2 separate regions of the Homo sapiens genome follow, and region 2 is linked to region 1. A link means that fine-mapping ties the variant in region 1 to the expression of a gene that starts in the linked region. Tissue or cell type: monocytes after LPS. Region 1 holds a variant in brackets; the other region holds the start of a gene. All regions are shown on one strand. Distances are from middle to middle.

The links. PIP is the estimated chance that this variant, and not a neighbour inherited with it, causes the effect.
Region 2: MYO5C starts here. The variant in region 1 is fine-mapped to the expression of MYO5C in monocytes after LPS (Quach 2016, PIP 0.95).

What each region holds. Positions count from the first base shown.
Region 1 is chr15:52,232,865-52,238,065 of GRCh38, forward strand. It overlaps MYO5C (myosin VC), which reads right to left. Exons shown (of 41, transcript NM_018728.4): 22 at 4,618-4,782; 23 at 2,806-2,899. It overlaps LOC105370820 (a long non-coding RNA gene), which reads left to right. Exons shown (of 4, transcript XR_007064638.1): 4 at 3,014-4,462. Among named protein-coding and RNA genes, the nearest start is that of MIR1266, 42 kb to the right of the region's middle. The variant G/C (reference allele first, on the strand shown) is at 3,242.
Region 2 is chr15:52,292,852-52,297,971 of GRCh38, forward strand. It overlaps MYO5C (myosin VC), which reads right to left and starts at 2,953. Exons shown (of 41, transcript NM_018728.4): 1 at 2,759-2,953. The coding sequence starts at 2,785. It overlaps LOC105370819 (a long non-coding RNA gene), which reads left to right and starts at 2,033. Exons shown (of 4, transcript XR_932250.3): 1 at 2,033-2,360. RefSeq lists enhancers at 83-132, 1,006-1,175 and a silencer at 2,617-2,776.

The DNA of each region.
Region 1 (5,201 bases):
AATAATAATTCTCACAAATTTGTCAGATTGGAATTATCAATAAATAGTTTCATTTATAGTACTTTTGTTGGTCTGTTATTTATTAAAGTAGATATTGGCTTTGAGACAATGAATATTATTAAAAATAAATAGAGGCCGGGCGCGGTGGCTCACGCCTGTAATCCCAGCACTTTGGGAGGCCGAGGCGGGCGGATCACGAGGTCAGGAGATCAAGACCATCCCGGCTAAAACGGTGAAACCCCGTCTCTACTAAAAATACAAAAAATTAGCCGGGCGTAGTGGCGGGCGCCTGTAGTCCCAGCTACTTGGGAGGCTGAGGCAGGAGAATGGCGTGAACCCGGGAGGTGGAGCTTGCAGTGAGCCGAGATCCCGCCACTGCACTCCAGCCTGGGCGACAGAGCGAGACTCCGTCTCAAAAAAAAAAAAAAAAAAATTAAAAAAAAAAAAAAATAAATAAATAAATAGAAACCCTTTGGGAAGAAAATGATCCATTTGTGACAAGGTTTCTCGGTCTTGGCACTATTGCTACTTTGGGCTGGATAATTCTTTGCTGTGGAGAGGGGCTGTCCCACGCATTGCAGGATTCTGAGCAGCAACCCTGGCTTCTACCCTCTAGAAGCCAGTAGCACCTCTGCTCCAGTTGTGACAACCCAAATTGTTTCCAGACATTGGCAAATGTCTGGGGGGTGAGGTGGCAGCAAAGCTGAGAACCACTCATCTGTGATAACCAAGAAAATAATCAAGTGTCTGTCTCTATCTGGGAAAGAGGAAGTACAAAAAAGGCAGCTGTTAACACTGAAATACAAGAGTCGCAAACACAAAGTCTGCAGGCCGAAGGGCAGGACGTTCCATGGCTATGACAACCCCACATTCCCAACACACCCATATGCCACAGGGGCCATCAAAATGGGAGAATGGCAGTGCAGCCCCTCAAATGGTGATGTCCCTATTTGCACTAAGCTGATATCTCATCCTTGAGCTCTACCTCACCTCTGAGCCCCACCCCAGAAGGAGTCCTCGGGGTGCACCGTCGATAGCAATTCTCCAAATTACTTTTTTTTTTTAGCCAACAGTTTAATAGTTTGTCTAACATAGTGCCAAATGTTTCTGAATCAAAATGACTGCTTCAGAACGTTGTAAGGCAGCCAGGAAATACTGGGGGAAATGCTCAAGCTTTAATTTAGAAGCCAACACGTTTTATATAACCTCAATTTTCAATTAACCAAAAGCATTGGCTTTAATTCTGGTGCTTACCATCTTAGGCCATTTGCAGATGCGCTAAAGAAGCTGCTCGAATGTGATTTACTTCTCAAGAGGAATGGGATTATGTCCATGTTAAGTTAGAATCTCAAAAAGGAGAAACAGCATTTGATAGCATCCCTGGGTCTTAGGTCACAAGCATAGGTAAAGGTTGGTGCTATTCACAAAACACTGTTTGCCATGTCGGGGGAGGCGCACAGGATAATCAGTTTATAAATATTACATTGAAAGTTTTCATGGACTTTTTGGAAGAGGATGTAAAATTATTCACCCAAACATGACATGGTCTCAGAAACATAATTTTCAGGTTATATTCCTGAGAATTTAAATGCCCTTGTGGGAAATTCTATTTGAAGTTAGGGGGGAAAAAAGCCAAAACAACCACCCAAGAGGAGTGTGCTGTAATAAAAAGGGTGGAGATGAGGAAACCCTTTCCTAACTCAGGTTCAAGGTTTACTCCCGGACCTCTGACATGCTCCTGTTCATCTCTGACATTCACATGGCTTCTGTGCCCACACCATCAGCCCTACAGAGACAGGGTGGAGGGCACGCAGCACCTAGAACAGGAGGGCATGGCCTGCTCCTCGTCAGCACCTGCACAGCCTTTCCTGCCCCAGTGCCCTGGTGTCAGGCTGTTTACTCCCTCTTCACCAACATTCGCTCCTCCCACTCTCCGCCCTGAACTCCCAGGGCTCTGCACTCCTCTGGGCCCCATCATATCCACCATTTGCTGGGCTAGAGGTGCGTGTAGAATCCCCAGGCCTGAACCCTCGTGTTCCTGCTGCCCCCACGTTGGAGCTCAAGGAAGAGATCCCTAGGCAAGATCACTGAGAGTGGTGATTTAAACTATCTGGTCAGGGATCACCAGGCTCTGTTGCCTGTTGCCTTTTCTGGGGTACAACAAGTATTGTCAAGTTGAACTTGAGCTGAAAAGCTCAAATGTGTAGAGCTAGGCTAAGCGTAGCTGTTCCACAGCCCTAAAGGAAGTGATACCTACTGGTTCCAGGGTCTGCCCTTCTTCATTCAGGGCAGGACAGTAGCAGAGGACATGGGTGTCACTTAGGCTAAGTAACTCCGACAGATCAGAATTTTTTCTGCAAATCTTTGGTGAGCACCAAACATGACTGCAGCATTACTCTGACTGTACATCAGGATTACCGTAAAGGTTTTCTAAAATTACGGATGTCTGAACCACCTCTGACACCACCACACACGAATGCGCACACACAGACACACACACACCCATTTCCTGATGCAAAAGCTCCGGGCTCATGGTCCGACCATCTGTACTTTGCAAAGGGCCCAGGAGGTTCTGAGGCACAGAGAGGAAATGCTGTGCTGTCTGACAAAAGACAGAAATAAAACAGACGAATCTGTAGGGCAAAGTTACCACGACTTAAATATGGCTATTCCTTGTGAGCAAAAATTGCCTCACTAAACTAAGTGTACACCAGAGACCCCTGGTTCTAAAACTGGTCAACCCCAGTATTGTTTACTGAGTGACTAAATCAGTGAATGTCTGGATTTGTGCCCCCCAAGCTTTACCTTTTAACTCTTCAGTCTTCTCTTGAAGCTTCAGCTGTATTTGTTCTTTCTGTGTTTCCAGTTCTGAATTATGCTTCTGAAGCTTTGCCAATTTCTAGCAGAGGGAAGGGGGAAAAACAAACTTTTTTGAAAACCTCACTTCAAGTTGTCACCATTGCCTTTCTTCACAAAAAGATGTATATTCTTAAATTAGTTTATTTTTTCTCAGCTCCTGTCTATAGATAACAGCGAGCACCAGCCACTGTAAGACGCTGCCATTTGTTTCACATGCAAGAGCTCAACGTGACTTCAAAGGTGACACTATTCCCGACCTGGCCAGCAATGACTGAAACAAGGAGAAAGGACACATTCAAGGGCTCCTCAATGTCAAGGACATACTTCTTCCTTTTGTCGAGCTTCTCAATAGCCAGGGGACTTTATATGTCGAATATGCTAT[G/C]ATTACACAGTTGATGGCGTAAAGGGGATTCACACTTTGCAACTGTTATGACTCAGGAAGGATGTGTGAGCACAGCAGGATTCCTATCATTTCAACTTCTCCTGGTAAAGTGTCTGCTGGGCTGGCAGCAGGCCCCGTGGTGCTGACTGATGGTGACTGGCAGCTGGCGATGCCCACGGCAGCAGTGTTGGTGCACCCAGCACCGGGTCATGGGGAGGGCAAAGGGATGTCTTCTGGGCCTCCAAGCCACCAACCCTGGGTGCTAGGACTTTGAAAATGCAGCAGAGGCTGGGCACGGTGGCTCACACCTGTAATCCCTGCATTTTGGGAGGCCAAGCGGGGGTGGATCACTGGAGGTCAGGAGTTCGAGACCAGCTTGGCCAACATGGTGAAACCCCACCTCTACCAAAAATACAAAAAATTAGCCGGGCGTCATGGCGCATGCCTGTAATCCCAGCTACTCGGGAGGCTGAGGAAGGAGAATTGCTTGAACCCGGGAGGTGGAGGTTGCAGTGAGCCGAGATTGCGCCACCGCACTCCAGCCCGGATGACAGAGCAAGACTCCGTCTAAAAAAACAAAAAAAAAACAAAATGCAGCAGAGTGGATGATAATAAAGATCACCTTCTTAGAACACACTAGCTCACACTTTTGCAGGGACTCACCATAGGCATTTGGCTACATTATTTCATCTGACCATTTTATTCTCACAACAATTCTGTCAATCTCTTTTTGTTATTCTCATTTTATATAGGAGGAAACTAAAATTCATTATGGTAGGCATTTGGCTAACGTATTTCATCTGATGATTTTATTCTCACAACAATTCTGTCAGTCCTTTTTTGTTATTCTCATTTTTTTATATGAGGAAACTAAAATTCAGAGAGGGTAAGGGACTTTAGCCAAGGCTGCCCAGCCAGACAAAGGCAAGATTTGAATCTAGGGCATCTGGTTTTTATGCTGACTGCTCTTTTCACTACACCAGAGATGAAAACCCTACCCTAGCTTTGCATCGCTGTTCAGGGGAAGACATTTCCAGGGCATAGACCTTAAGGACAAGTGATAGGAGACCAAGGTCATCCTGGAAGAAAGGGAGGCAGCCAGCCAGGGCTCTTTGGGCCTGTCATCATTTTGCAAAACTTGAAAGAAAGAGAAAACCTATGTTGCATTTCTCTCATTATTAACCTCCTCCCTTCCCCTAGACTCTAATCCTCTGATCTCGCCTTTCCTAAAAGGTAGGCTCCCTTTGGTAATGGAAGTTGATAGCAAAATCTGATTTGCTCTGCAGAAATCCACTTCATAGGAAAAGCTGGCAGCGCTCATCTTTTTCACAGAGAGTCCGCATATTTCCATCCCGTCTCACACGCCCGCAGCTGACCTCTTCCACAGCATCCCTGTATCTCTTCCCCTTCTCCTCGTAATTTCGCCTGTGAGTGGCTGCTTTTTCTAGTTCTGCTTCCAGCTTCTGAATCTTTTCCACATCCCCAGCTCGAAGAGCAGCCAGGCTAGTCAGCTTCTCCACCAGCCCATGGTTTTCTTTGTTCTAGAGAAAAGAAAATTCAGATGTTTAGAGGTTAATCCAAACAAAGATGCTGTTCCATTTAATTCTCATAGCCTTTGACACAGCATCCAAATTTGAGAGGTTGCTTTATGCTGATCACACTTATCACTGCACTGACATTTGTTAGCATCTTCTTTGTGGTGAAACAGTATGGCAGATCTTGCTGGGTACACATCTTCCCAAACTGGTGGCTATTTTAATGTGGGAAGTTTCCAATTCTGGCAAACCAGGACAACCCTAGTGTTATGAACTGTGCCCCCCGCCAAAATTCATTTGTTGAAGTCCTAACCCCTGAATTTAGGAATATCGCTGTTTTGAAGACAGGGTCTTTAGAGAGGGAATTAAGGTAAAACCAGCCCTCAGGGTGAGCCCTAGTCCAATAAGATTGGCGTCCTTAGAAG
Region 2 (5,120 bases), 60 kb after region 1:
TCAGACAGGTGGAGTTCGTGTGCCAAGGCACGCAGTGGCAACGTGCAAGCAAGGCATTGAGGGAATGGCAAGGAGTCTGGCAGAGCATGAGCCAGGTAAGAGCAGGAAGGCAGGGAGAGAGGCAGGACCTCGTGGCTGGTCAGTGAGTCTGAAAGCAATGGGAGCCTCTAGAGGTGGTAGAGCAGAGAATGCCAGACCGGCTCTTCTTAAGAGAGATTTCAAATAGGGGAACTGCTGCTCTGAACATTTCTAAGGCATGGCACCTGTAGCTTTTCAAAAGAGATGGATGATTTTACACCTCACCTGGCAGCGATTGCTCCCCTCACCAAGACTTCTCCTGGAGTTCCCTCTTCCCTGTTCCCACAGGGTGGCTTCCAGCTCCCCTGTTAGCTCCTCCTCTGGATGGCTCCATCTCAGCCCTTCTGCTTCCTCTCACTCCTTGCACAGATGCATTCCCCGCTGGCCTGTCCCTCACCCTCTTCTCTGTCTGCCTTCTCCCACCTTGGTGAGACCCTCAGTGTCTTGTTGGCTTCAGTGACCACCTCTGGGCAGAAGACCCTCGGCAGGGCCCATCCCCTCCCTCTGACACCTCCCACCCTGCAAGGCACCTTCCCTTGGAAGCCCCCTCACCCCTTCAACCCCTGCAAATACAGAACTTGCCTGATGACTTTCTTAAGAAATATTTCCTCCTCATGCCACATCCTTAATTCACTCAAGGGCACCACCCTGCTGTCTCTCATACAGACTCTAACCTCAAATGTCATCCTTGGCTGGTCCCTTCAACCCCCACCCCACTCCCCAGTCCAGCCTCTCAGCCTCACCTGCCTCCACCCTCCATGGCCAACACTGCAGCTCTAATTCTTTTCCAACAGCTGGAATGACCTGAGAATTCAGCTACGTGACCCCGGCCTCTCTCCTCCACAGCCCAAGGGCGCTGCTGGCATACATAACAAATCTAACAGTCCTAACACACCACCCTTGATTCTGCCAGCCCCCACTCAAAACCCACACTGGGGAATAAAGCCCTGACCTCGCTCTCTGGCTGCCATGGCCCTCCCCTTCACACCTCCAGAACAGACAAAATGGGGGCTAACTGCCCACCAGGAAGGGAGGTGGCAGCCTAGGAACACAGGTGTCTACGTGGACACAAGGTCAGTGGGAATGGCCATCAGGCTGCGTCAGTCTCTGGGATTCTCAGATTCTCATTCCCTCCAAGCTTGTACCTTTAAACTCCTTCCTATCAGTTTTCTTACATTGTGCCTGGTACTTACTAGACATTTAATAAATATCTGAGGTTTGAGGCACCTAAAAATAGGGGTGCTTGCACCTGTGTGTTTCTGCTTCTGGAAATACTGTCACCTCAAATAGGTTCAGCAGCAGCATTTTTCTCTGTCCTCCAAAGTATCGTCGAAGACTAGTCCAAGACTTTTCTTTCACTTCCAGTAAACTGAAGGCTGAAGAAGCGCTGTTGGCTGTCTGAGGGCTCACAGTCTCACTGGTGAAAATATTCTAGAACAAAACTAGGGCAATTCAAACACTGTCCATTTAGAACTCCAGTTAATGGAGATGCAATAGAGGAGAAACTACAGTTCGGTTGCTTTGTGTCCGGACTGTTACTAAGTAATCAAAGTAGAAGAAAAACGTTTGCTTAAACCATTGAAACATGATTTTTTAAATAACTATCTTTTCTATCTACAGCAAAAGCATCTTTTAAAGTAGAAAGCTAGAGCATGTGTCCGGGGAAATGGATGGATTCTAGTTCCACTCGTCTGAATACTGAGGTCTCTAGATTTCCCCAACTGGTGTATAGGAGGATCAGGCTTTATGGCTATTCAAATGGATTTTTTTTTTCAAAAGTGCTAACACTGTCACACTCTTTATCCAAATAATTACCCAAGCCCATCTCAGAGGGTTTGGGACATATGTGGGAACGCTGCCCTTCCGAGGTAAGAGGTGGAGCCCCAGCCAGCAGAAAGGAAGCTTCTGAGGAATGCTCTAGTGTTTCCCAGAGTCAGGGTATATGAAAGGCGCTTTAGAAACTGTGGTGTTTGTACTGTTGCTAACAGTACAGATGTTAGGCAAAGAGCCTACGACTGCACCTCGTGGCCCCTGGGCTCCCCAAGCGCTTGGTGCCACTGCAGTGCCCTCAAGCCTGTGACCCAGGCTGCTTCAGCTTCTGATGAGCCTACATGCACGTTCACGCACTTTGAAGACACAGAATTCTAGAAAGCAGCCCGAACACTGCGGCCATAAGCTTCTATGCCAGCTCGTTCAAGGGGGTCCCAGGAGGGGCCAGGAGACTGGCCGGCGTCTCAGCTTCCTACGTCCGCATGGGCAACTCTGATTCCACCCGTGGTGTGGTAGGAAGGGACCGAGGCGCTCCAGTCCCGGGAGATGGGGACGCACGCGCGACCCCTGGGCACTGGGGATTCTAGGCCCCGAGGCCGGAGCGGCGGAGGGGGCGGCCCCTCCCACAGGGTCTTCCCACCCACAGGGCACCCAGGCGCAGCGGAGCCAGGAGGGGGCTTACCCGCGGGCAGGGACGGAGCACGCCGGGGCCCTGGAGGGGCGACGCTCGCTCGTGTCCCCGGTCCCCGTGGCCCCTCCGCGGCGCCTCCGCGGCCCCCAGCGCGCGCCCGCCCGCCCTGCCGTGTCAGGTGCGCAGGTGTGGCAGGTGTGGCCCGGGCGCCAGGTCGAGTCAGCGTTAGCAGGGCCGGCTCCCCCACAGCGCTCCCAGGAGCCCAGCGGACCCTCCTACCTGCGTGTACAGCTCGGCCACCGCCATGGGCAGGAGGGGCCGGGGCCAGGCCGGGGCTGCCGAACGTGCGAGGCTCGGGGGCTGGGCCTGCGCCGCAGAGGCCGGGCGCAGGAGAGACCGCCGCGGAAATCACCGCCGGGCCATCTTGCCCAAAGTTTTCCAACGGCCTCCTGTTCCCGTTCCCGAGTTGGCGGCGAGGGGAGGGGGCAGCGGCGGGATTGGTCCCTCCAAGCTTGGCCCGGCTAGTCGGCGCTGCCATTGGCCGGGGCCGGGCGGCTGCACCTGGCGGGAGCGCGGGTGGAGAAGGTTGGGGCCCGGGGCGCGCTGCCAGGCAGGAACAGATGCATCCGGAGGCTGCCCGGCCCGAGTGTTAGCTCCTCAAAGAGCAGAGGATACGACCATTTAAATGGAAGACCCAAGGGAATCAACGTACTGAACACAAAGAAATGTGTTAAGAGTCCAGCAAGGTCATCGTATTCAAAATCAAATACAAAAATAAGTAATGGTCCTTTATATGAGCATTGTCTATGCAATACAAGATATTTACAATATTAGTGAAAATATAAAGTATCCAGAGATTACACTCGCAAAAATGCCCTTGGCCTTTGTGGAGAAAATGTTTAAAATTCTCTTAAAGAGCTTAAAAGAAGGCCCAGGTAAACGGGAGACATGCCATTTTCCTGGCTGGGAATATTTAATATGGTCAAGGTGTCACTTCTACCCAAATCAATATATATGCCTAATATATTGGCGTCAGAATCCTACAGAACTTTTGGAGAATTGTACAATGATTCTATATTTCATATAGAATAAAAGCCCTGTATAACTAAGACAATTCTCAAAGAGGAGAGATTTGTCCTGCCATATATTTAGGGACATAACAAAGCAGTAGTCATTAAAACAGTGTGACACTTGCGTGAGAACGGATACGTGAGTAATGGAACATGCTGGAGCCCCCCAGCAGGGCCCTACATTATACGGTAGCCTTAAGGACCAGATAGGGAAATAAAATAATATTTATTAGATGGGCCCGTTATATGGAAAAACAATAAAAGCAGATCCGTGGCAAACACTGCATCCAAAAATAAGCTCCAGATGGATTCACGATTAAAACTTAAAACCGGGAAATTATTAGGAATAAAAGAGGGATAATATCTTTAAAATGTTGGGTTATAGTAGTTTCCATATAGAAGAATTGTTAATCGGTTAAAGAAAAGAAATCCAATTTTTAAAACTGACAAAAATTAATAGGCAATTCACAGATGGGGACACTTAAATGGCTTGTTAGCATACAAGGAGATGTCAACTTTAGCAGTAATCAGATAAATACAAATGAAAACAACAATGAGATATTGCTTTTTACCCATCATATTGGCAAAAACATTTAGGTTAGACAATCTCAGATACTGCCTAGGATGTGAGAAAATAAAAACTTGGCCGGGCGCGGTGGCTCACGCCTGTAATCCCAGCACTTTGGGAGGCCGAGGCGGGCGGATCACGAGGTCAGGAGATCGAGACCATCCTGGCTAACACGGTGAAACCCCGTCTCTACTAAAAATACAAAAAATTAGCCGGGCGAGGTGGCGGGCGCCTGTAGTCCCAGCTACTCGGGAGGCTGAGGCAGGAGAATGGCGTGAACCCCAGGGGGCGGAGCCTGCAGTGAGCCGAGATTGCGCCACTGCACTCCAGCCTGGGCGACAGAGCGAGACTCCGTCTCAAAAAAAAAAAAAAAATAAATAAAAAAAATAAAAACTTTTTTTGCTTACATAACTGGTGGGAATATACTGCCATCCTGGAGAGCAATTTGAGAATAGTTATGAAAATAAATGTAGGCAGAAAAATTCTCACAGTCACCCAAAGAGACAGTTAAGTAGATGTTCATCACAACATAGTTATTTATCAAAGAGTTGGAAGCATCTAAATATCAATAGGGGAATAAATAAAATAGTATATACATGGCAGACAGCAGAGAAAAATAAAAAAAGAAATAGTATATACATGTAAAACTCTACAGCTGTTAGTAGGAATAGACATGATCTACTTGACTCAGAAATAAAAAACAATGTTGAATAGATGTCTAGCCCAAGTCTTTAATATTTAAAAACTCACAAAAACTGCAATACTGAATATTGTTCATGGGTACAAGTATGTGTGAATAGAGGTAAGGAGGATAAATTACAAAGTCATTCATTAAATATGCAAGAGTGGATACCTATGAGGGAGAGAAATGGAATCGGAGATTTCAAAAAGGGGATCAAAAAATATAAAGAGAGGCCTGGCATGGATCAATAATGATAAATGCCACAAAGAGAGGATCATGGTAAATTTAATTTTGCATTTATTTATATACAAAATTATTTAT